3 linked regions of the Homo sapiens genome follow. The protein of the gene in region 3 interacts with the protein of the main gene of each other region in a pairwise test. Each region holds a gene or a part of one and is shown on either strand. Other genes may lie near its edges.

Region 1 (7,797 bases), on a different chromosome or scaffold from region 3:
CTCCCAACGTGCTGGGATTACAGGTGTGAGCCACCACACCCAGCCCAACAACCACTGATGGATGTTCTCACTCATTGTTCTGTCTCAATCTCTTATTTTCTCTCTCTCTGTGTGCTGTGTTCTGGGTAATTTCCCCATACCTTTCAGTTAACAGTTCCCTCCTTCAGCTATGTCTGATCTGTTTTTGAATTCATCTATTGACATTTTTATTTCAATAACTATATTTTCTATTCTAGACACTGTACTTTTTAAAAATCTGTCTATTTTGTCCTCATAGTGTCTTACTCTTTTCTCAGGACTCTTATGTCTATAATCCCTTAAAATATATTATTATTTTCAGACAGCTCTTCTATTATCTCATATTCTCAGGATTCTAATCCATTTGTTGTGTTTGTTGATTCTTAGTAATGGGGATTTTTTAAAATCAGGTGTTTAGTAGTTTTGAATTATTAGTTCATTTTTGACAAGGTTTTCCCCCCACCCCCACTGTGAGAATCTCTTCATGCCTTGATTGTGATTTTGCATTTGTTTCTATCAGGAGTCCAAGGATATCAGCAGAATGTCATCAGACTGGGATCAGTTTTTATGGTAATTCCCAGGGATGAAGGTTTCTGGGCTGCATGAAGGTTTCTAGGCTGCAGATAACAAAAATTCAAACTCCAATCTGTACAAAGGGCAGGCTTAAGCTTTCTATTTCTCAAGGAAGACTTCCTCTCCGCCCACTCAAAGCTCAGGCAGAGATGAACATGTTTTCTTATTCCTCTGTGTTGGGAATAAGAAGGGTATGTGTCTTTGTCCATCTTTTCCCTAAGGAGGTAGTCTTTCCAGGGCGCTGGCTTTATACAGGGTTTTCAGTTCTAAATTCCCACTTTGCTTAGGATCAAGGCCTTATTTCCTGACTTGAGAGTGCATGAAAATCCAGGCTGTAGGTTCCTGAGACAATACCTCTTGGACCATTCCCACTCATACTTTGTAGCTTATGTGATCACTGCCCTGTTTGCCATTTCTGGCGCCTGTGTGTTTTCATTTCTTTTTTGCCAGCTCATTCATTCAGTTAAAGCAATACTGGTTACATTTCCCCTGGTATTTTTAGGTAAGCACAGTGGGAAGATGTTCAGGGTTCATTGGTTTTTCATCTTGCTGGAACTAAAAATGTCTTCTCAGGCTCCTTGTTTAGGAACTTGTCCTCTGCCTGTCCTTTTACCTTGTCCTCTGCTTGTCCCTTTTCTGAGAGTCCTTATTTGGCCCTCCTGTCCTTTCTCCCTGTATCGGAGGTCCTCATCTGCTTCACCAAGACCTCTGGATCCCTGGACCCTAATAGTTTTTAACAAGAAGGCAGGATGAAATGTACTCATAAAGCTAAGTTTGAAGCTTTTTTCTGCTACTTACCAGCTGAGTGACCTGGGGGCAAGTTACTTGGCCATTCTAGGCCAATTTCCTCATGTGTAACGTGAGTGAAACAGTGAACAAGAGGGCTCTGGAGGCAGGCTGTGAATGTGCAATGAACAAAGGGACTTGGGAATTGGGGTCTTCATTGACTGGCAAGGGGTTAGGTGGTTGTGCCCTGTGGTTAAACAGGTGATGGGCAGGGATTCAATTCCATGAGTCCTCAGGCACGGTGTCAAGCAATTTACATTTAATCCTCAGGATTGAATGTCAGTTCTGCAAGGAATGTGACTGTCTCATGTTACAGATGAGGAAACAGGCTGGGAATGGTTTAGTAACTTGCCCAGTTCTGTCTCTTTCCACTAGATGACTGCTTTGGGCTGAACATCCTTCTGATCCAAACATCCTTTATAGGGATATTCACTGGAGACCTAACGCTGCTTTAGAAGTGATTTTTAAAAAAAATTCCCATTTTGTTTTATTTTATTGACTTATGGGAGAGTAATTTTCTTCTTTGAATTTTGGGAATGGGGTCCTTCTGGGGTGATCTCCTGTCAAGTGTGAGCTGGCACAGGAGTTCGGAGGAACAGCTGGTTGCTACACCTCCCCTTCCCCTAAAGAGAACAAAGGCTCAGGCCCTCTTTGACCACCAGGTAAGTAAGAGTTCCCCACTCTCACTCCAACACACAGATAGGCTTTTTGGAGCATTTTCTGCCTAGCTACCCCTCTTGCACCCAGCTGCCTCTGCCTGGGCCCCACTGATGTTCTGAGTCCCTGACCCAGGCACAGATATGGGAGGTGAGGTGTGTCTCTCTGTTTGGTGACTTTCCAGGTGCCAAGACACACCTGATCAGCATTCTGGATGCAGGCACTCCCCATCACCCCTTACTTACAGAAATGGGCCACAGGATGAAGGGTATGTATCTATGAATGGCAAAGCTGTACAGTAAGATGAAGAAGCTGAAGAAGGATATCTCCATGGTGATGATAAGCCTCAAGATGGGGTGCACGGTGAGTGAGGACAACAGTATCATTGCAGCTATTAGGCAGCCCTGCAGTGAGACATAGACACCTGAGCCAGCAGCAAGGGCCTTTCACCATCTCTCTGAGGACCCCTGGAGCCTACTCCTCCTTCCCCCCACCCTCGGCCAAGGCCCCCCACCCAGGGATACCAGTTTAGCTCACCAAACTCCGAATCTTGATCTCAGCGTGCCCCAAGAGCCAGAACTCTTTATTGCTGTCTTTTAATTCCCACCGGTAGCGGCGACACCCCCTCCTCGTGCCCACTTCGTGCTTGGGCTGCACCGCCTTTTGAGGTTTGTCCGATGGCTCCTTATGGTCCTGCACCGCCTTTTGAGGTTTGTCCGATGGCTCCTTACCGTCCTTCTTGTCTTCCTCGGGTTTGGCCCCGGGTGGAGGTGGAGCTGGTGCTGGCTCTGGCTTGGCCCCCTTTGCCGCCTTAGGTGCCATGACTGACTCGGTGTCCTTGGCTTCTCACAGCTGGCCTGTTTCTTCTCTCTCCTGCTGTTTCTGGGTAGGCCAGGCCTACTAGAGTGCCTGGTGTCCACCGAGCGGCTCAGAGGGCGTGCTCAGCTAACTGCCAGGACCACCGAATGCCAACTCCCGCGCCCTCTCCACGCGCGCCCGTCTCCTCGCGCAGCTCCCATCCGCCCGGCAGCGGCCGGATCCTCCCACCCTCCACGCGCCGGCCCCCGACGGGCCCCAACTCCGTTCCCAACCCGCCGGTCCCACCTCCGCGCGGAGCTGCCCTCGCGGTCCCATCCCGGCGTCTCCAGGTGGCCCCAGGTCTGTAAGCCGCCGCTCCGCTGCGGGGTCGGGGGGCTGCGAGCACCGGGTCACGGCCCTGAGCTCCGCGGGCGCAGCGCCAAGCGCAGGAAAATACAACGCGACTTTCACACAAGGCAACGAGAGGAAGCAGGTGTTCTCGATAAAAGCAGCAGCCCTAATTTTATGGTCACATTTAGGCTGGAATGGGTGACAGCATGCGAGCTCGGGGGTGGGCTCGGAGGCAGCGATTCGACAGACACGTGCATCTGCTAGGGCGCCGGGCTGGCTTCAGGCGGGCCTCTGCGGGGCGTCGGGGCCGGTTTCGGGGTAGGCGTCCTTGGCGGGGGAAAGCTTCCTTTCAACTTCGACTCCCAGGAATCTTTTCAAGTTGGTCCTCATCTTCGTGGTGACCACAAACGCATCGATGCAACACACGATTACCGCTGTGAGACACAGGGACTGTCAGATACAAGACCATATGCGGGAAGGAAAGACGGGGTTATTTTGCAGCTCAGTAGCAACCTCTCGAACCTATCCCTATCCAGGGTGGGCGCTGCGGGTGGCCTCCTGTCCCCTCTGACCCTTCACTACTTTCTTGGCGCCTGCCCAATTGGCTGCTGCAGGCGGATTCTGCCTTTCCCAGAAAAAGGGATTTTGGAAGTGGGGGATTTTGTTGCCAGTAGTAGCCTCGCTTGATGTCTGAGGCACCCGGAAAGGACTAGGGAAGGGCAGTGGCCCTAGGTGGCTGCAGGTAGGGGTTAGGTCCTGAGAAGCCCTCTCCGTGGAAAGACTTTTGGGCTATGTTTGCAAAGGGCAGGAAGGAGTTCCTAAGGGGAGGAGGAGGACCCAGGCACTGGACTAGGGTCTCTAAGGAATCTGGTGTGGCCAGGACCTCCAGAGCCGCTGAGAAGGGGGCAGAGTTGAGGCTGGAGAGGTGCAGGATCTGGGACTCTATCAGGAGGTCAGGTGTGAGATTCAGAAAACCTGCTTGCAGTGTTCATGAGGTGAATGGAAGGTGAACCAGGCTGGAGGCAGGAAGACCAGTGCGTGGTGGGGTGGGATGCTGCCATCCAGGTAAGAAATGGATACCTGGGGGTGGGAACCCCTGGCAGTAGAAGGAGTGATAGCGGAGTCAGCCGATGGGGACCAGGGGCTGATGGCACAGATATTCCCCTGTGCACTCCGGGACTCTTGACAACCTTGGATGTTTCTCTTTATGGTCACTTAATTCCTGGCTGCTTAATGAGCTTTTCCTAGGTATGTCTTGCCCCAGTGAATCTGTGAGCTTCCCCAAAGGGGAAAGGGCTCTATCCCCAGCACTGAGCTCATGTCTGGCACAATCAATGGGATTGACAGATATTTATTGATTATAGAATGAATTCAAATGAACTCTTTTTCTGCATTAATTTCTGTTCTCATTGTTTAACTTCTTGAACCAAAGCCCTACCTCCCCTCCCAACCCCCTGAATCTTCCAAGCATTTGATCTGCCATTTCTTTTGAGTCCCAATTTGTCCCAGTCTTGTGGCCCAGAGCAAGGTATTTAACCTCAGTTCCTATATCTGTACAAATGAGAGTTGTAAAGATTAAGTCAGAGTGTGCCCTGCTTGGTGCAGGGCATATACTGGGCACTTCAACATGTGGCAGTTTCCTTCCTTCCTTTCTTCCTTCTTTCCTTCCTTCCTTCCTGAATAGGCTGGATTCCTCACTTTAGACAGTGCACTTTTCCCCCCTTACAATCTCTCTTATCATCTGTCTTTAAAATACAATTCTCTAGTCCAGAAAATCAAAGTCCTATTTATAGACAAAAAGATCTTGCTTAACATTTCAAAAATAGTGTCCACAATTCTCAAAAGGGGTTTAGCAGACTCTTGTTTTTGTACCTATTTGGAGAATGCATGTTAGAATTAAGATTTTCATGAGCTCAGAGTTTGTGCAACTTCATATCACCTGAAGAAGTCAGTGCAAGAAGGAGAGTGGGTGGCAGTGGGGATTTTGCTTGGTTAATGATATAATGGGGTCTGCCAATTTCCCTTTTCAAAGTCTTGGAATACTGATCTTAAATGGAGTCATGAAGGCCTCTACTTACCCCCCCGACATAGAGTAAATGCCTTCTTTTCTTTTCTTGCATGGCCAAGATGGCAACTACTGAAAGGAACACAGCTGTAATGATACTGTTGGTAAGATCCTGTAATAAAGAATTGAAAATTATCAAGTTTACACAACAATATAATTTCACAAATATTTAAACTGGTCAATTACACATCTAAGAATAGATGCCTTTAAAAAACCTTCCATTTGATTAAGATGAGGAGGAACCTTCAGAGGCATAATTCTTACATCGTCCAGAGACATGAGTTTATGTGGTTTTAAGATCCTAGATATGACTTTGTCTGTAGAAACGGGTTTATTTTCATTAAAGAATACCATTAGAAAAAAAGCTAACAACTTTTTCCTTAAAGGGAATAGGAAAGTGAGCATGAAAAAACCTGGTGGTCAAGGGGCCTATCCCAAATTGGCCCTCCATAAATGTGATTTTTTTTGGGAAGTCTTATATTTTTTAATGTAAATTCTGCATTCTATTCCATAACTCATTTGTTTTAATATAAAAATAAAATTTTAGATGAGCACTTTAATTATTGGTTTACTTCTTCTCCCAAATCTGCAGGTAAAGCCAACGCTCTGGAAATTGGGCCACATTTATTCTGTGAGTTCATGTGTCCCAAGAGCATATGAACTCATCTGAGGAGCAGGCCTGATATTCTGGAGTGAATGTTTTTTGCTCTTTCCTGAAACATGGCCAGAATTGGGTGTGCCCCGACATCTGCAGGCTCATTGTGCTCCTTCTTCTGGGTTTCAATTGGATTTCAGTCCTGAGTTCTTTTTTTTTTTTGAGACAGAGTTTCGCTCTTGTCACCCAGGCTAGAGTGCAATGGTGCGATCTTGGCTCATTGCAACCTCCGCCTCCCAGGTTCAAGCAATTCTCCTGCCTCAACCTCCTGAGTAGGTGGGATTACAGGTGCCTGCCACCACACCCAGCTAATTTTTGTATTTTTTAGTAGAGACAGGGTTTCTTCATGTTGGCCAGGATGGTCATGAACTCCTGACCTCAAGTGATCCACCCGCCTCGGCCTCCCAAAGTGCTGGGATTATAGGCGTGAGCCACCGCGCCCGGCCAGTCCTGAGTTCTTTAACTGCTAGCCCAACCTGCTTCTTTGTGTGCTGAAATGAATAGTGAGGATGAGTGCGTGGCAGTGCCCTCCTGGGTGAGCAGTGGCTGGGTTTCCTTAGCAAAACAATAATGGAGGAACGAGTACACAGTGTGTCAGTGGCAGCAGTGTATGGCTATGGGCAAAAGCCCAGAGGACATAACCACAATATGGGCCAGAGAGCTAATCTGAATAGCTCAAGTCTTTGAGTGTTGATGGTCTGCCTTGGTAATGGCAGCCTTTCTGGCACACTCGTCCAAACACAGCAAGAAGCACTGCCATCCAGTGTATGGTATCATGGAATCACAGTGGCTCCAATGGAGCTCTTTGATGTGTCAAGCATTTCCCAGTCCATCATTTAACCTCATTTAACCCTCACAAAGCAGCCTCCAAAGTCAGAATTGCCATCATCCCCAGTTTACAGAGGACATGGTGGAGGCTTGGAGTTTTTCAGTTGCCTAGGATTGAATAATGGGTGGAATCAGAACTCAACTCACTATTGCCTCCCATGAGGGACACCCAAATAAGGAGGAAATGAGCTATTCTCCCAGTCTGGAAGTGCAGCATCCAATCCATCTTTGGCATTTTCTGTGGAATGGGTCTGGAGGGTCAAAATGATACAGTACCAGTCAGTTGAGTATTTTTGTTGATGAACTCTTTTGGCCTGCCAATTCCTAGATTGGGCGTATTTTATCACCCATCTGCCAACTTGCTAATTTGTAATATGGGGATAATGACTGAGGTTCATTGGCTCTGAGGATTAAATGGCATAATGAATCTGAAAGCATCTGATAACATGCCTGGCATCTAGTAGCTGGTGGGAGTGCATCAAAATGTAGGTTCATATCTGCCCTCAAAATGTTAACAGATAGTAAACTCTCTGCAAACTCCAGATGTTCTTCCTATTGGGGCTGGCGACCGAGGAGCCCTCTTGTGGAATGTGACTTGCCTCTTGGAAAGGCACTAATGCCTACTGTTTTGGTGCCTGGTAGTTAATGCTGGAACAGGGGTATGTAGCAGGGCTGGTGGAGGTTGGAAGTAAGTCCCAGCTGGGTTCTGCAGGCTGAGCGAGAGGTCTGCCCATAGTGGGCAGGCCTGACTGAGGCAGGTACAGTGGTTTGCAGCTTTGCAGGAAGCTTACACCTGAGGATTGTATAAACCAAGGTAGTCAAAGATGTGAACAAGGATTCTTACAACTGAGAAGCAGAGTATAAACTTCAAAAGTCAAATATTCTTTTTTAAAAATTGCTCTCTGTTGGCCAAAATATCTATATAACCGGAGCTCAGTTTCTCTGACCACTAACCAGCTGTGGTCTTAGATTACAAGAATTTGAACAAACGCACATCATTAATGATAATAATAAACCAACCACAGACCAGGCCCAGCCAGTCTTTGACTTCCTGTCATAATTTTAT
Region 2 (5,386 bases), about 30 Mb from region 3:
CAGAACCCAGCACTTCCTCACTCTGGCAGTGACAAGGAGAGAAAATGACTATTGCTGAATCACAGCTGTTTTCTTTTCTTTTCTTTTCTTTTTTCTTTTCTTTTCTTTTGAGATGCAGTCTTGCTCTGTCGCCCAGGCTGGAATGCAGTGCTGCAATCTCAGCTCACTGCAACCTCCACCTCCTGGGTTCAAGCCATTCTCCTGCCTCAGCCTCCCGAGTAGCTGGGTTTACAGGTACGCCACCACGCCTGGCTAATTTTTGTATTTTTAATACAGATGGGGTTTCGCCGTGTTGGCCAGGCTGGTCTCGAACTCCTGACCTCAAGTGATCCGCCAGCCTCAGCCTTCCAAAGTGCTGGGATTACAGGCATGAGCCACTGCACCCGGCCTACAGCTATTTTCTTTATCTTCTGTTTCTTTTTCTGCCAGATTATGTTGAAATATTGCCCAAAACAGTAAGCATGAACACCTTAGGAAAAAAACCGAACCCATCCACACACATTTTCTAGTAATCGGTTTGCATAGTGGTCTTTAATGTTACAGAGCTTGTCTTGGGGAAGATAAAATGGGACATTGTGATCTTCAATTTATTTCTCCTTATCCACATAACCAAAATGTGAACCTGCAGGGACAGGTGAGAGGCACTGATGTAGAGTGGACAGAACTGGAAGTTAGGAAACCTAGGTTTGTTGCACTGGACACCATCTCGTTTGTCTCCCTGAGCAAGTCTTGTCCACTGTCTGGGCCCATTTCCTCAACCAAACAACAAGGGCAGTTCTCAGTGATATCTAGGTCCCTTTTGCACCCTTGTTCTCCTCCCTCATAAGCTCTGCTTCTCCACTTAAAGCAGACATAGGGGCTGGGAGTGGTGGCTCACACCTGTAATCCTAGCACTTTGGGAGGCTAAGGTGGGTGGATCACTTGAAGTCAGGAGTTCAAGACCAGCCTGGCCAATATGGTGAAATTCCATCTCTACTAACAATACAAAAATTAGCTGGGCATGGTGGCGGGTACCTGTAATCCCAGCTACATGGGAGGCTAAGGCAGGAGAACTGCTTGAACCCAGGAGGCAGAGGTTGCAGTGAGCCAAGATTGCATGCCACTGCACTCCAACCTGGGTGACAGAGTGAGATTCTATGTCAAAAAAAAAAAAAAAAAAAAAAAAAGCAGAAATACAGTGTGGTTCTAAAAGAAGAGAAGTAGAAAGTGTGGAGTTGCGTTTGATCAAATGATTTTTAGAATCTAGTTTTATTCATTCAAGAAGTATTTACTCAGTGCTTGTTTGTGCCAGGCACTTGGGCATTTTCTTTGCCAAAATGAGAAAGGATTCCACCGATGAATAAAGAAAGGCATGCTTCAACTTTAAGGAATGACAGTATATAAACATGCAAATTCACTTTTAAACATTTATGCTACTTGTTTGCCTTACAAAAAGATTGGTGTCTGGATTAAAACAAGATTTGATTTTCCAAAACATACGTCAGAGCTTTTCAGAAACAGTTCAGTTCCACACATATTGACCAGATCCCTTCAGATGCTCTGCTGGGTCCTGACTGAGCACTGGGGATGCAGAGGTCAACCTGGAGCTCATCTTGTTGAGGGAGGATAAACTAGTGACTGCCACTCAACACAGCCCAGTGGGTGGACTTTGTTCCTGGGTCTGTACTGAGTTGAATAGTGTCCGCCTAAACTTCTTGTCCACCTGGAATCTGTGAATGTGACCTTATTTGGAAACAGGGTCTCTACAGATATAATTGGTTAAATTAAGATGAAGTCATACTATTAGGATTAGGGTGGGCCCAAATCCAGTGACTGATATTCTTTAAAAAAGACACCAGGCCGGGTATGGTGGCTCACGTCTGTAATCCCAGCAATTTAGGAGGCCAAGGTGGGCGGATCACTTGAGGTCAGGAGTTCAAGACCAGCCTGGGCAAGATGGTGAAACCCCATCTCTACTAAAAATACAAAAATTAGCTGAGTGTGGTGGCGGGTGCCTGTAGTCCCAGCTATTTGGGAGGCTGAGGCAGGAGAATCACTTGAACCTGAGAGGTGGAGGTTGCAGTGAGCCAAGATCATGTCACTGCACTCCTGCCTGGACAACAGAATGAGATTCCGTCTCAAAAAAAAAAAAAAAAAAAAAAAAGACACCAAGAGACACAGAGGAAATGCCATATGAAGACAGAGTCAGAGGTAGGAGTGATGTTTCCACAAGCCAAGGAATGACAGGGACTGCCAGAAGTTGAAAGAGTCAAGGAATAATTCTCCCCTTAAACTTTTGGAGGGAGCAGGGCCCTACCACATCTTGATTTTGACTTCTGGCCTCCAGAATTATGAGACAGTAAATTTCTGTTGATAAGCCACTGGATTTGTGAAATTTATTACAGGAGATTAATACGGGGCCATTTAATAAAATGGAGTATATTGAGAATCTACGATGAGTTAACTTTGCAGCAATCTGATGCTACAGATAGCTAATATTATCCCTAATGAGCAATAATCAAGCAGAATTTGACTGAACTAGGACAAAAGGTTAGTGGTTAAGAGGGCAGGCTTTGAAGTCAAACAGAACTAGGTTGGAGACCTCAGCTCTGGTACTTAGCAGGGTGACCTTAGACAAGTGACTTTGCATCTTTGAGGTTGCCACATCTGTAAAATGAAGATAACTAAGACCTTCTTATTAGGTTGTTGGGAAACATGAAGTGAAATAAGGCATTTAAAAACACTTAGCCCCCTGCCTGGCACATAGTAAAGGCTCAATAAAAGTGAGCCGGCACATGGTAGGTCTATCCTACCGTTTATTGAGTTAACTCAATTAATCCCTATTACATGACATGAACCTGCATATTTCCTTTGTTGTACTGCCTGTAATTATCTTCTTTATTGACTTATTGGCTGTCTTGCAAGCAGGATATAGACTGTAAGCCCCATGAGACAGGGGCACAGTCTCATTTATGGCTGGGTACTCAGGACCCTGCACAGAGCCTGGCTCATGTTTATGAGATGAATGAATAAGTGAATAGCTAGTGGATATTTTGTCTTGAAAGTATTAAACGAAGACATGTTTAACCAATATCTTTCATTTTATTCCATTTGAGGTCCCAAATAATTGCATTAGAATTCCTCTGCAATCTTCCTGCCGCCAACAATTTCTCTTGTTGGCTGTTTTAGGCTCCTCTGGGAGGAACCCAGCCTCCCTCATATGAAAAATGAGTACCCTGGGATCTATTTTATTTTATTTTTTTGAGACAGTCTTGCTCTGTCACCCAGGCTGGAGTGCAGTGGTGCAATCTCGGCTCACTGCAACCTCTGCCTCCAGGGTTCAAGCAATTCTCCTGTCTCAGCCTCCCGAGTAGCTGGGACTACAGGTGCCTGCCACCATGCCCTGCTAATTTTTGTATTTTTAGTAGAGACAGGGTTTCACCATATTGGTCAGGCTGGTCTCAAACTCCTGACCTCAGGTGATCCACCTGCCTTGGCCTCCCAAAGTGCTGGGATTACAGGCATGAGCTACCATGCCTGGCCCCTGAGATCTTTAAAATCATGGAGCTATATTCTAGCTGGGGTCAATAGACTGAAATGTCAGCCCCATACCTGGCATATAGGAAGGACATTTCCCCTCCTCCCACTTGCTCTGCTTATTATATGTAATAGGGGTGTGGAGGAGGCAAGGGAGCTGAATTGGGGGCAGATAGGGGAACAGTTTGGAGATTTATACAATCTTTGTGAATATCTTCCTTTTTTTCTTCGAGTTAGGTTAGACTAGGACATTGCCTGCTTCCAGCAGCACCACCAGGACTGCTGCTGGAAGGACTTCAGAGGGTCAAGAAAATTCTCCAAAGATTTTTGTGTCTCAGGCGATCCCAGCCTCCTCTGTATTTCCAGGGACCTGAGGTTACAGGTGGGGATTATCAGAATATCAGAGAGGGTCCTCGCCCAAACAACAGGATGCCCCAAACTGAAGGCTTGTCATTTATCTCTGAAAGAGGCAAGTCAACACCTTAATCCTCATCATAGCATAGTCCTCGGTCCTCAGTGGCAAGGGTGACTTGAAAGTGGGGCCTTTCATAGCTCCAGAGCCAAGGAGGCCTTGACAATTAGGCAGAGAGAAGACCTGGATGTCCATCCCATCTGATACCCTGACTTCCCAAGAGAACAACCCATTCTTCTCAGATTTCTCCCAAGTCCCTCATTGCTGGGCCTGGAGGCTCGCTTTGGCTCCTGTGGTCTCTGGAGGATGCAGGCATGAAGCCTGACCTGACTTGTACTGACCCTGTCCCAGGCCTTTTGTGTCTCGCCTACCTGGCTACTCCTCGTGGCCCTACCTATCCAACAGACTGTGTGCAGGTGGGCAAGGCCAGGCTGTCTTCCAGGAGTCAGTCCCAACACTCATCAGCAAAAAGGGGTCCGTGTCTAGGTGTCTGGGACTGGTTTAAGTAAGAAGAGAGTGCCAAGACCCCTCTCTCTCTTCCAGGGAGTGAACTGATTTCTGACTTGAGTTGTTTAAATTGGGAAGAGGCCTCATCAGCAATCAGAGAGGTCTAGATCTCTGGAATCTGGCCACGGAGTGATTTTCCCATCAGCCTCTGTCTCGGTGACTGAGGATCTCGGGGCTTCTTCTTTTGCCTCTGACCCAAGGCCCCTCACACACTTCTTCCAGTGAGCCAGGCAGTGATGGGCAGAGGAGCGGATCTCTCCACTCCGTAGAGCATAGATGACAGGGTTGACCATGGAGTTGATGAGGCACAGCATGGAGCAGAAAGCAAAGGCCTTCTTGACCTGGTCACTGAGCGTAGTGGCCAGGCTGTGGGCCATGAGGGCCAGCACTGGGAACCAACAGATGAGGAGCACAGCCAACACTAGCCCTAGGGTCTTGGCCAACCTCACATCCAGCCTCATTCGGGCCATTCCTGGCACCTGCCTGTCCTGGTGGCCAGACAAGCTGGCCACATGCTGATGGGCCTTCCAGAGAACATGCCCATAGGTGTAGATGATTCCGGAAAAGAGGAAGGCGATGAACAGGAGCCAGCTCAGCAGGTAGTCATTGGGGATCAGTGGGAAAAGCTCAGAGCAGGGCCTGGGACAGCAAGTCCATCCCATGAGGGGCAGGTAGGAGACTAGTGCTGAGAGGACCCACATGATGCCCAGGGTCACCAGTGCCCTTCCACGGGTGAGCAGAGCTTTGTAGGAAGGTGGATAGCGCAGGCAGAGGTATCGGTCAATGGCGGTCAGCAGGAGGCTACCCACAGAGGCTGTGAAGGTCATAGTCACGCTGCCAATCTTCAGCAGGAAGACAGCCTTGGAATCCACACCATGGAAAACATGGAAATTCACAAAGCTGCATGCAAAGACCACACTGGCCAGGAAGTCAGCCCCAGCCAAGCTGCCA
Region 3 (7,243 bases):
CCAGGTGCACAAAGGTCTGTTTTAATCATTATCATTTCCAATTCTTTGCCTGAGCTTTTGAGAGATTCTTGGATTGGTAGATTCCACATCTTAAATTCTCCCTCTGATTAATTTTTTAAAAAACAAGTACTTAAAAAGACCACACTTAAAGAGAACCTGTTAGATGCTCTCTCACAAGTCAGTAGATTTGGCTATTAGTTATTCTTTATACACAAACTCTTCTTTTACTAATGAAAGATGTTTTTCCCAACAAAGATCTTTGTTTTCCCAACAAACATCCATGGTTTTTTGTTGTTGTTGCTGGAGATGGAGTCTCGCTCTGTCGCCCAGGCTGGAGTGCAGTGGCACGATCTTGGCTCACTGCAACCTCTGCCTCCCAGGTTCAAGCAGTTATCCTGCCTCAACCTCCTGAGTAGCTGGGATTACAGGCGCCTGCCACCACGCCTGGCTAATTTTTGTATTTTTAGTAGAGACAGGGTTTCACCGTGTTGGTCAGGCTGGTCTTGAACTCCTGACCTCAGATGACCTACCCGCCTTGGCCTCCAAAAGTGCTGGGATTACAGGCTCGAGCCACCGCACCCGGCCCCCAATCATGGCTTCTAGCTGGTGGTTGACTATTTCTGTAGTCAGAGCCCTCCCCAGGGGATATGGATCTCAAACCTCCCAGGGCAGAGACAGAAATGGGACCATTTCTAACAAAACCTGGGGCCTGCAACTCCCCTTAGCACTGGGCATAGAGTGACAAATAAAACACCCTCTTCTCTCAAGGAAGTCATGGTCTAGTGCGGGGAATAGACAAGTAAACAAAAAACTACCATTTCCTAAATGAAGTCCAGAGGCGGAGGGTGTGCGTGGGCTACGAGAGCAGGGAGAAGGGGAAGCTAATTCTGGTTAGAGAAGTCAAGAGGACTTCACTGAGGAAGTGATTTCTATGCTGAAACCAGAAAGACGGCAAGCAGTCAGCTGGCTAAAGTGGGGATAGTGTCCTGGTGGAAGGAACCACATGGCCAAAGGCCCAGAAGCCAGAGACAGCATGGCTCATTGGAGAAACTGAAAGAAGAATCATAGAGCTCAGAGTTGGGAAGTGTTTTAAAATACACCCAAGACCTTTTTTTTTTTAAATAATTGAGACGGGGTTTCCTTCCTCTGTCACCAGGCTGGAGGGCAGTGGTGTGATCATAGCTCACTGCAGCCTCAAACTCCTGGCTCAAGCCATCCTCTCACCTCAGCCAGAGTAGTTAGGACTACAGGAGTGCCACCCAAACCCGGCAAATTTTGTGACTGTTATAGCTTCTCCTTATGTTGCCCAGGCTGGTCTTGAACTCTTGACCTCAAACAATCCTCCTTCCTTGATCTCTCAAAATGCTGGGATTATGGGAATGAGCCACCATGCCCAGCCCCCAACTTCTTAAAGTAATCAGGGCTGATTTTCCCCACCATGTGTCACTCTTTATTTATTTATTTTTGAGACAGAGCCTCGCTCTGTTGTCCAGGCTGGAGTGTAGTGGCACAATCTCGGCTCACTGCAACCTCCGCCTCCCAGGTTCAAGCAATTCTCCTGCCTCAGCCTCCCAAGTAGCTGGGATTACAGGCGTGTGCCACCATGCCCAGCTAATTTTTGTGTTTTCAGTAGAGATGGGTTTCGCCATGTTGGCCAGGTTGGTCTCGAATTCCTGACCTCAGGTGATCCGCCCACCTTGGCCTCCGAAAGTGCTGGGATTACAGGCGTGAGACACCGCGCCCAGCCGGCACTCTTTTCTTTACCTGCTGGTGCAGTGGTATGAGAAGCCAAAAATGCCTAAGTGGTAGTTACAGCTTCCAATTCAGTGGAACTGTAACTGGAATGGAAGTGTTCTCTCTCCGCCTTCCCTGCTTCCCTGGGACCAGGATCTCCAACCAAGCAGAACTTAAACTTGTGACGCAGGAGGCACACATTCTATGTGTGTAGGTTTCACTGAAAGTGATAGTAAGAAGTGCTACCCCTTGGTTTGCAAATCTATAGGTATTTAGAACAAAGTACCATTATAAATAATTGATAAACCATTGGTTTAGTACATGTACTACATGCCGGAGGACAATGCCCCAGTCTCCTGAGTATTTTCCCCAACCTGGAGCCCTAACTGTGCCTTTAACAAGCCATTCCACCATCCTATTAGGCCACCTACTATTGGATGACTGAGTCACATGGTAAGACCAGTGGGTAAGACCCATGGTTATGTGTCACTGTTGCATGTTCTTTACAATTAAATTGGTCCCTTAGTCCAAAGCAATGTTGTGCAGGTAATCATTGCAGGATCCGTAAGCAAGAGGACTTTGCTTTCCTTTAACAAGGGGGAAAGGACTACTTCTGCCACAGCCACCTTTCCCTTGAAAGATTCAAGGGAAACTGGAAACGAGGGATGGTCAAGTCTCAGGCTTTCCTACCCAAATATCCTCATCCCAGTTCTCAGGTTCCCATTCATTTTCTGACAATGCCCCAGCTTTGATGGAGGAGACCTACAGAGGCTGTGCATTCAGTCTTCGTTGAAACTTTGCCACCCTTACAATTAGATCTTGGGCCTGATTTTCAGTCCAGTCTTTCTCAAGGCTATAGAAGAATAAGAATCTTCAAAGCTGCCATAGAGGCTCTCTAGCTTTCACAAAGTGCCTCAAGTTGACAGTTGGCTGTTCTAAGTCTGTCATTTTATTTTCAAGGTTTCCAATGGAGTTAAGAACACCCAGTCCATTCCATAGTCCTTATAATTACCATTGTCCTCTTAATGTTCCTGTGCCACAGCCACTAGATAACTCAGCACCTTATCTTCTACCTGCACGTTATCCCAATCAACTGCAGACAGACACCTTAGTAATTGTGATGCCATTCTATTCTAAGTGTTATCACACCACCACCACCCCCCTCCTTCTCTCTCCCCTTAACACCAGCAATATATTTGTTGTTGCCATGTGACTGGTGCGCAGTTCAGTTAGAAAATGCCAACCTAAGGTTTTATTTTCTGGGGCCACTTTTGGTACCAACATGCCTTCATATTGCTTCCTCATATGAGTAGTTTATTGGCAAGTATGAATCCAAGCACCAGGAGTGAAGTACAGGGCTTGTATATCAGGGAAGGAAGGAGACCCATTGCGAAGATGCATTGTCAAATGCGTCACTTCCAAAGGCATTTGGTTGCTTAATCCTGCTAGGTAGTTTGAAAGCTATATGAAAGGGCGCCTGAGGGGGAAAAACAGGAAAAGCATATATTCATCAAGTGTTGACCCCATTGGTCAGAGATTTGCCTCATGAGACATTAACAACTCTCTACCCCTACACTTCTGGGATGCACCTGTCTGGGTGCTGATTGGCTCCAGCAAGGTCCCATGGCCCCATCGCATGAAGAAACAAGCCTCGAAGCAGAAAGTGAGAAGCCTGAGGCATAGACTGGAGGCAAGCTCACTCAGGTTATATCTGCTGACGCTGGAATAAGATGAGTGGCGGTGAAATAAGCAGCAGGTGAGGCCAAGATGATCTGAAATGGGACATAAGAGGTGGCTGATATACTAGCACAGCTGAATTCATGAACTGAGATTCATTCCTGGTACATACTCAACCAAAAGTGCCCTGCACATGCTCTAAGCCTCAGCTTTCTCTTTGTAAAATGAGGATAATCACCCCAAGATAGCAGGATTGTTCTGAGAATTAGAGATCCTGCATGTACAAAGCCTGATCATGATCATCTTGGGGAAAAAAATACACTATATATGGCTATTATTAGATGTAAAGTCTTTCCAAGCGCTCACTTACTGGGGGTGCTCATACGAACAGACATCGCGCTTTCGATCACTCATTCAGAATGTAATTGACTCATCATGTACTTTCTCACCAGTGAAATTTTTGTGGCCAAAAGAAACTGAGGGACTGGTGACGCGGGTGACTTAATTTTTTCTTTCACAATCGTCTTTCATCACCCGATTTTATATTTCCTTAGGAAAAGAGGTATAAACACACAGTAAGAAAACCCTAAACTCGAGAATTTTCTACGTTCCCTGGAGCAAGGCCAGCCCAAGTAGTCACACTCAGCGACCCCACCACTCCGCCCTCGCCTGTCTCTTTAAGAACTCGAGGCTCAGCCTCGGGAGAAGGGCGGGCGGGAGCGGGCTCTGCGCGCCGCAGCACGCAGGTTTCTCTGGGAGCTGCTGTCTCTTTAAGGAGGCGGGGCTCTTCCCGGAGGAGGCGGAGAGGTTCCGCCCCCCGGATCTCCGGCTTCCGGCAACTGGGCTGGACCGAAACCGGCGCGGAGCAACTGAGGCCCGAGCCTTCTCGGGACCCGGGGGACGCCTAACCCCGCGAGGTGAGGCTGCCGAGTTTGCGGGACCTGTACGAGGCTAAGGGGGTTCAGGATCTCCTGCCCGCCCGGGCCGCCGCGGCCCAGCTCCTCTCCCTGAAACACTGCCTCTGCTTCGCGGTGTCCCGGGCTGCAGGGTCGCCGACACCCCATTGCCTACTAATTGCCTGACTCCGCTCTAGGCTCCTTACACGCACTCCCATTTAATGACCCCCGCACTGTGTGACTAGGTATCGTTATGCACCCATTTTACAGATGAGGAAACTGAGGCCGCGAGGAGCGCGCATACAGCAGAGAAGCAGCAGAATCGGGAATCAAACCCAGCTCTGTCTGACCCCAGAGCCTGTGCCTTTAACCACTGGCTAGGCTGAACTGCCTTTGTTCTTCACTGTCCCCATCACCTCTTTCAAACCTCAGCCTCTCCTTCCTCATCGTTACATCTCTAGGCTGCACCTGCTCTCTAAACATTCACACAGTGAGTTGAGATTCATTCCTGGTACATACACAACCAAATAAGGTTGAATTGGAACCTTTGGATCCCCGGGGTTAGTTTCTTTGTTACAGTTTTAATATTTAATAATACCTGATGCTTAGTGGTTATCTTTATATAAACCTATTAAACCCCACTGAAAAGGGAGGCAAGGGAAAGTGATACCATTTCTAATACATAAGAGTTGTTTGCAGATACTTTATACTGTCATCCTATTATGTTTACCTATTTTTTTCTTTTAGAACCCTGCAAATTTTCTTCCTCATAATTGGGAGAAGACTCACTGGCCGAATGGCAGCAGTAGATGACTTGCAATTTGAAGGTATACCAGTTGGGTGCCCACCTTTATATTTATGATCACTGTTGCTACAGTCACAGCAAGTATTTTCATTCCTATACTGCCTCACACATTGAAGGATATTATTTCAAACATCTTGGTGGCTGTTGGCCACATCCAGGTGTTTCCTGTTTGTCCACACCAGCTGTTTTTGTTTTTGTTTTTTTTGCCAGATAACCCTTCAGATTGGTAACGAGTATCATAAATTTAGTACAGTGATTACAGAAAATGCTTACACAGTTCCTGCTTTAGTTCAGAAAACATTTATTGAGCACTTACTTTGTGCTTAGAACCGTACAAGATACTGGAGACAAAAAGATGAAGAAGTTTATCCACTGGTGGAGTAGATAAAAATGTAAAAAGATCATTAGGATGAAATGTGATCAGATCATTCCCTCATTGAATCAGTAAATATCTCCTGGTTGTGACCAGGAACCGGGCAATTGTTCTAGTTATCAGGGATAGAAGAGTGAACAAAATAGTTTCCTTGTGAAGCTCTCAGTCTAGTGAGGGGGACATGTATTTATTAAATGATCATTTAAATATATACCTACAAACTATGAAAGTGCTGGAGGAAAAGTTCAAGGAGATATTAGGACTCATAACCCAGAGCCTGACTTAGGCTAGGGATTGATGAACACTTGTTTGTTTGTTTGTTTGTTTCTTTTGATGGAGTCTCACTCTGTTGCCCAGGCTGGAGTGCCTTGGCTCGATCTTGGCTTGCTGCAACCTCTGCCTCCCGGGTTCAGACGATTCTCCTGCCTCAGCCTTCTGAGTAGCTGGAACTACAGGTGCCCGTCACCACACCCGACTAATTTTTGTATTTTTAGTAGAGACGGGGCTTCACCATATTGGCCAGGCTGGTCTCGAACTTCTGACCTTGTGATCCACCCATCTTGGCCTTCCAAAGTGCTGGGATTACAGGCATGAACCACCAGGCCTGGCCCACTTACTTGTTTTATTAACACCTTACCTAACATTTACTATATGTCAGGCACTGTTCTAAATCCTGTACAGATAATCCTTATGTCAACTTTATGAAATAGTTACTTTATTCCCCTGTTTTATTAATGAGGAGACTGAGGCACAGAAAAATAATTTGCCTAATGGTCACGCAGTTAGTAAGGGATAAAATCAGGATTTGAACCCATCCAGTCTGGTATCACAGCTTATGCTGTCTCTGTTATCTAAGGAAGAGATACACTGTTTAAAGATAAATCTATTTCATTTGCAAGTACTAGAAATCCACCTCAATTTGCAAATACTGTCAACCTCGTCTTCAAAATTCATCTAGCATCTGACCACCTCCACCACTACTCTCACCATGCTCAAGGTCACTGTCACCTTTTTTCTGAATTATAGCCTTTACCTTCCTTCTGGTCTTTCTGCTTCCTCCCTTATCCCTCTACAGTCTGTACTTTGCAGCCAGAGTAGTCCTTCTAAAACTCAAGCAGATCATGTCATTCTTTCAGAACCTTCCAGTAGCTCCCATCTCACTAGAAGAAAAAGCCAGGCTGGGCGCAGTGGCTCACACCTGTAATCCCAGCACTTTGGGAGGCCGAGGAGGGCAGATCACCTGAGGTCAGGAGTTCGAGACCAGTCTGGCCAACATGGTGAAACCCTGTCTCCACTAAAAATACAAAAATTAGCTGGGCATGGTGGTGCACGCCTGTAATCCCAGCTACTCTGGAGGCTGAGGCAGGAGAATTGCTCAAACCCAGAGGTTGCAGTGAACCGAGATCGCACCACTGTGCTCCAGCCTGGGCGACAGAGCGAGACTCCATCTCAAACATAAACAAACAAACACAAAAACGAAAAAGCCAGAGCCCTTACTGTGGCTTAGGAGGCCCCTATATGATGCAGCCTCCAACCCTCTGATTTCATCTGCTGCTCTCGTCCTTTCTGTCTCTGCCCAAGCTGCATGGGCTGTCACGGTTCTTCCTATGCACCAAGTACATTCACAGCTTGGGATGTTTGTGCCATCTTTCTGTGTGGGACATTCTCCCTTCAGATAGCCTTATGGCTTGCTTCTTTGCTCTGTTCAAATCTCTCCTCATTAGAGAGACCCTCCTCAGCCATCCTATCTAGGAGTGC

The links. The genes of interacting proteins can lie anywhere in the genome.
Region 1: the proteins of YIPF1 (region 3) and CMTM2 interact in binary tests that used the Homo sapiens proteins (3 or more experiments, as listed by UniProt).
Region 2: the proteins of YIPF1 (region 3) and CNR2 interact in binary tests that used the Homo sapiens proteins (3 or more experiments, as listed by UniProt).

Annotation. Positions count from the first base shown.
Region 1 is NC_000016.10:66,574,667-66,582,463, reverse strand, and holds the start of CMTM2 (CKLF-like MARVEL transmembrane domain-containing protein 2), read right to left. Parts: upstream 3,002-7,797; 5' UTR 2,857-3,001; coding exon 2,572-2,856; intron 2,439-2,571; coding exon 2,280-2,438; intron 1-2,279. Other genes in the region: CMTM1 (CKLF-like MARVEL transmembrane domain-containing protein 1), read right to left, coding at 3,463-3,633, 5,262-5,360; CKLF-CMTM1 protein, read right to left, coding at 3,463-3,633, 5,262-5,360.
Region 2 is NC_000001.11:23,870,014-23,875,399, forward strand, and holds the end of CNR2 (cannabinoid receptor 2), read right to left. Parts: coding exon 4,522-5,386; 3' UTR 502-4,521; downstream 1-501. UniProt on the Homo sapiens protein: Heterotrimeric G protein-coupled receptor for endocannabinoid 2-arachidonoylglycerol mediating inhibition of adenylate cyclase. May function in inflammatory response, nociceptive transmission and bone homeostasis.
Region 3 is NC_000001.11:53,886,798-53,894,040, reverse strand, and holds the start of YIPF1 (protein YIPF1), read left to right. Parts: upstream 1-4,243; 5' UTR 4,244-4,328; intron 4,329-4,577; 5' UTR 4,578-4,797; intron 4,798-5,054; 5' UTR 5,055-5,103; coding exon 5,104-5,134; intron 5,135-7,243.